Regions from separate parts of the Homo sapiens genome. Here region 2 is linked to region 1. Evidence: fine-mapped expression QTL. A gene starts in region 1. The other region holds a variant in brackets. All regions are shown on one strand. Distances are from middle to middle.

Evidence for each region.
Region 2: its variant is fine-mapped to the expression of KLB in testis (GTEx, PIP above 0.99).

The regions. Positions count from the first base shown.
Region 1 is chr4:39,405,456-39,408,379 of GRCh38, forward strand. KLB (klotho beta) reads left to right here and starts at 1,475. Exons shown (of 5, transcript NM_175737.4): 1 at 1,475-2,319. The coding sequence starts at 1,495.
Region 2 is chr4:39,475,788-39,478,711 of GRCh38, forward strand. It overlaps LIAS (lipoic acid synthetase), which reads left to right. Exons shown (of 11, transcript NM_006859.4): 11 at 1,276-2,924. The coding sequence ends at 1,328. Among named protein-coding and RNA genes, the nearest start is that of LIAS, 18 kb to the left of the region's middle. The variant G/A (reference allele first, on the strand shown) is at 1,425.

The DNA.
Region 1 (2,924 bases):
ATGTATTTCTTTCTGTATGTTTATCTTTATTCCAGAATCATGCTGAAGGTAGTCTATGCCTTTGCTATTTTCTTTTTCAGGTTTTTCTTTCCTTTTTAAAAATAAATATTGCCTATTCTTCAAGGGAACTTTCATAATAATTTTCTCTTTTTTTTTTTTTTTTTATTTTGAGACCGAGTCTTGCTCTGTTGCCCAGGCTGGAGTGCGGTGGTGCGATCTCAGCTCACTACAACCTCCACGTCCCAGGTTCAAGAGATTCTCCTGCCTCAGCCTCCCAGGTAGCTGGGATTACAGGTGCCCACCACCGTGCCCAGCTAATTGTATTTTTAATAGAGACGGGGTTTCAACATGTTGGCTAGGCTGGTCTCAAACTCCTGACCCCAAGTGATCTGCCTGCCTTGGCCTCCCAAAGTGGTGGGATTATAGCCATGAATCACTGTGCCTGGCCTTTCGTAATAATTTTCTTGAACTAAAATTTGGGATTAGGCCAGGCATGGTGGCTCACACCTATAATCCCAAGCACTTTAGGAGGCCGAGGCAGAAGGGCTGTTTGAGCCCAGGAGTTCAGGACCAGCCTGGGGGACATAGCTAGACCCCACCTCTACCAAAAAATCAAAAATCAGCTGGGCATGGTGGCATGTGCCTGTTGTCCCAGCTACTTGGAGGCTGAGGAGGGAGGATTGCTTAAGCCTGGGAAGTTGAGGCTGCGGTGAGCTGTGATGACACCACTGCACTCCAGCCTAGGCTACAAAGCAAGACTCTTATTAAAAATTAATTAATTAATTAAAAAATTAGAGATTAGAGAATTTTAGTTAAGTTAAATAAATAAAATAAAAAATAAAATTAGAGATTAGAGGATTTTAGTTAAGTTAAATGTATTAAATTGAAAAGTATTTCATTTTTCCATCCACAAAGTGCTATATTTTCTCATTCAAGTCTTCTCTCAAATCTACCAATACATTTTTGCAATTTTCCTAAAATAGGTAACATTTATTAAGATTGTTCTTAGATGCGTTATAATTTTGTGGAGAAGTGTAATTTCTTATTGTGTTTTCTAATTCTTTACTATTGGTATGTAGGAATGCTATATACTTGTATATGTTATTTTTCTTGATATATGAGATTATAAAATTACCACACAAAAACTCTAAAAATAGAAAAGCTATATACCTTATTCAATAATGTTCAAAACATTCAGAAAAGATTTGGGTCAATATGAAAGGCTACACGGAAAATAATGTGATTTTAATCCAGTGTTTACATATGTGTTAGTTACACATTCAAACTCTTGTCACCGATGCATTTTCATCTAATTTTTTCCATAATGAGAGAGAAGGAGACGCGTTGGTGACTGCAATAGGGCCACCTCCCTCAAATTACGTTGCTCTCTATGACCCATCCTCAGTCTCCCAGTTCAAGCTAATCATTGACAGAGCTTTACAATCACAAGCTTTTACTGAAGCTTTGATAAGACAGTCCAGCAGTTGGTGGCAAATGAAGCCAGGCTGTGCGGCAGGATCTCCAGGGAATGAATGGATTTTCTTCAGCACTGATGAAATAACCACACGCTATAGGAATACAATGTCCAACGGGGGATTGCAAAGATCTGTCATCCTGTCAGCACTTATTCTGCTACGAGCTGTTACTGGATTCTCTGGAGATGGAAGAGCTATATGGTCTAAAAATCCTAATTTTACTCCGGTAAATGAAAGTCAGCTGTTTCTCTATGACACTTTCCCTAAAAACTTTTTCTGGGGTATTGGGACTGGAGCATTGCAAGTGGAAGGGAGTTGGAAGAAGGATGGAAAAGGACCTTCTATATGGGATCATTTCATCCACACACACCTTAAAAATGTCAGCAGCACGAATGGTTCCAGTGACAGTTATATTTTTCTGGAAAAAGACTTATCAGCCCTGGATTTTATAGGAGTTTCTTTTTATCAATTTTCAATTTCCTGGCCAAGGCTTTTCCCCGATGGAATAGTAACAGTTGCCAACGCAAAAGGTCTGCAGTACTACAGTACTCTTCTGGACGCTCTAGTGCTTAGAAACATTGAACCTATAGTTACTTTATACCACTGGGATTTGCCTTTGGCACTACAAGAAAAATATGGGGGGTGGAAAAATGATACCATAATAGATATCTTCAATGACTATGCCACATACTGTTTCCAGATGTTTGGGGACCGTGTCAAATATTGGATTACAATTCACAACCCATATCTAGTGGCTTGGCATGGGTATGGGACAGGTATGCATGCCCCTGGAGAGAAGGGAAATTTAGCAGCTGTCTACACTGTGGGACACAACTTGATCAAGGTACTGTACAGCTAGCTTCTTCTTATAGCTTCAGAAAACACTAAGAATTTAAGAATTTACCTTCTGCCTCAGTAATTCTCTTCACTGAAATCAAGGCAACTGATTTTAAGCTAATTCAAAAGATCTATCCTCAAATTTTGCATTTAAGTTAGTGTATGTTTTATTTATCTAAGGTATTTTTAATGTATTAATCCAATTAGTTTTTTCAAAAGTTGCACTTTGAGGCTATTTTTAAATCTACCATTATACACTACAGTGTGAATATATGAGCTTACTTTCATTCTGTGGGAAAACAGTGCTTCATAAATTTAATTGTTGGAACCCTTTTCTGACAACATGCAATCATTTCAGAATTATCTTAAGGCACAACCATTTCAAATATGTATTTGTTGTTAAGTATAGCTAACTTAGCTAATAAGTAAATAAAGTAAGTAAATAAGTAAGCCAAATAAATGTTAGCTAACTCATGCATATTAAATACAGAAATTTAAATATACTTCACTTTTGATTTTATTTGTGTTACATAGCAAAAAAGAGAAGATTAATTGTTATGGGAGCTAAACACATTTCTTCCCATAAGAACTGGGAAGAATGTGCTCTACTAA
Region 2 (2,924 bases), 70 kb after region 1:
GATCACCTGAGCCCAGGAGGTTGAGGCTGCAGTGAGCTGTGATCGTGCCACTGCACTCCAGCCTGGGTGACAGAATGAGACCCCGTCTCAAAAATAAATAAATAAAAATAGTAATTTAAAACATTTTAATGAACTAGTAGCTCATCATAGTTTGAAAACCCAAGAATTTGATTCAGCACTGAGTGACAGAATGTGGGGACTTTGAAAACCAGTAATTGTAAGTGATTTAGTCTTCAAGCAGCACTGCTGGCAAGCTAAAAATACATGTGAAGGATAGAACCACTATCAGCTTCTAGAATGGTTAGAGTAATGTCCTTTGAAAGGAGTTTTTCTTTTGCTAAAGAAAAATTTCTAACATAAAAGGAAGTAAATTATGAACTTTCTGATGCTTTCTAAATTACCAGGAAAAGATCAGATTCTGGTATATGATGAGCATTAGACTAAAATGATGGATTAGGGTCTGATAAAGTTGGTGCTACTCCCACGACATTTGGAGGAGGTATGGAGCAGCATGGATTACTTGGCTGGGTTATGAGCCTTGGGATTTGCAGAGATTATATGTAGATAGACTCATCACAGTTCTACTCATATGTAAGATGACAAAGAGAAGTTAATCAGACTCCTCATAAAATCAGGCCTCTAGTGCTGCACTCTACCAATAAGCATTGAGTCATGCTGTAAGAGCAATAGACTAAATGGAACACTAATGGCCTAAAAAGAGAATGTGCCCTCTAAGCTGCTAACTTATTGCGTAGGCACAACTCAGGCGGTGGGGAGAAAGCCCATTACAAATGAAGAGCTCTTGCTTCCCTAGAGGGGAATAAGCTAAAGAGATTCCATCAGATGCGTCTGCTCAGCTGCAACGAGATCTGTTTTATAAACATCAGATCCAGCCTAATAATGTAGCAAAATTGCTCTTGGAAATGAATTTTGCCAAGAGCAATACTTTGACAGTGATGAGGGATAGATAGTGCACATAAAGTAGAATTAATGTGCAGACCCATATATACAGTAGGGTCACCCTTTGTAATATTGGCTTACTAGAAAGAATAATAGTAGGAGACTCTAGTCATTATTGCTGGGGAGAAAGGCCAAAGATAATAGGGGATATTTAGGTTAGAAAAATATTGCCATTGAGGTTTGAGAAGAGAGAAGTGCCAATAAATACAAAAGTCTTCTTTAAAGGGGGAACACCAAAAATATAATTCTGAAATAGTTGTCTCACTGTTATTTACTTTAAATTGATATTAATGTGTTTTCCTTTTTCCTAAATAGGTGAATTTTTCCTGAAAAATCTAGTGGCTAAAAGAAAAACAAAAGACCTCTAAAACTTCAACAAGACCTTCAAGATCACAGAAATTTTTAAAATTTGATTCCAGTTAATAACAGAGGTGGTGCCAGAATGCCTGGACTGCAGTGGATGT[G/A]CCCCACCTCTTTGCTTAAAAAAAAAAATGTCAATAGCCAGGCATAGTGGCTCACGCCTGTAATCCCAGCACTTTAGGAGGCCAAGGCGGGTGGATCACCTGAGGTCAGGAGTTCGAGACCAGCCTGGCCAACATGGTGAAATCCTGTCTCCACTAAAAACACAAAAATTAGTCAGGCGTGGTAGTGGGTGCCTGTAATCCCAGCTACTCGGGAGGCTAAGGCAGGAGAATCACTTGAACCTGGGAGGGGGAGGTTGCAGTGAGCCAAGATCGCTCCATTGCCCTCCAGCCTGGGTGACAAGAGCAAAACTCCATCTCAAATAAATAAAAAGGAAAAAAAAGTCAATAAACTGTACAAATTTAATTACAGTAATTCATTTGGCTTTTAGTGTATCTTCTTTGTCCCAATTAAACAGTTGCTTGCTGTGATGTAATCTTAAAATATCTTTGTAAGAATTTTCTTTTAACATAATTTTAAAATGCATTAAAAACATGGCATGGTGGCTCACACCTATAATCCCAACATTTTGGGAGGCCAGGGCGGGTGGATCACTTGAACCCAGGAGTTCGAGACCAGCCTGGGCAACATGATGAGACCTTATCTCTACAAAAAATTAGCCAGACGTGGTGGCACGCACCCGTAGTCCCAGCTACTCAGGCTGAGGTGAGAGGATCACTTGAACCTGGAAAGCAGAGGTTGCAATGAGCTGAGGTGGTGCCACTGCTCTCCAGCCTGGGCGCTACAACTGCTCTCCAGACTCTGTCTTGAAAAAAAAACCCAAAAACTTCCAGAAGATTTTCCAATCCACTGTTAACATCATTACATTTCATTTATGAAAAATAAAAACTTCATTTATGTTACTGTGATGAAACAGTCAACATAGATTGAAACTCATCAGTTTAGCATTTCATTCAACTTTAGCATTCATTCAACGTAGATTGAAACTCATCAGATTAGCATTTGTCCTTGTAATATTGGAATAATTTAGAAAGGCTTAAGAGTGAATGTTGGCCAGATGTGGTGGCTCATGCCTGTAATTCCAGCACTCTGAGAGGCCGAGGTGGGCAGATCACCTGAGGTCGGGAGTTTGAGAACAGCCTGGCCAACCTGGTGAAACTCCATTGCTACTAAAAATAAAAAAATTAGCTAGGTGTGTTGGCAGGTGCCTGTAATCCCAGCTACTTGGGAGGCTGAGGCACGAGAATTACTTGAGCCTGTGAAGCAGAGATTGCAGTGAGGCGATATCGTGCCACTGCACTCCAGCCCGGGCAACAGAGTGAGACTGTCTCAAAAAAAAAGTAAATGTTGATTTTTTACATTGGTGTGACTACTTCAGAACCTGCAAAATAGTTTTATGCTGATTACATTTAGTCCCTCTGAAAACACCAAGGCCATAATGCTGCCTAAGACATGGAAATAGAACCTAGAAATATTAACCCTTATTTGTATAGTAGCTTGCTAAATCCACATGCCCTATTCCTTTCATTTCTCACATTGGT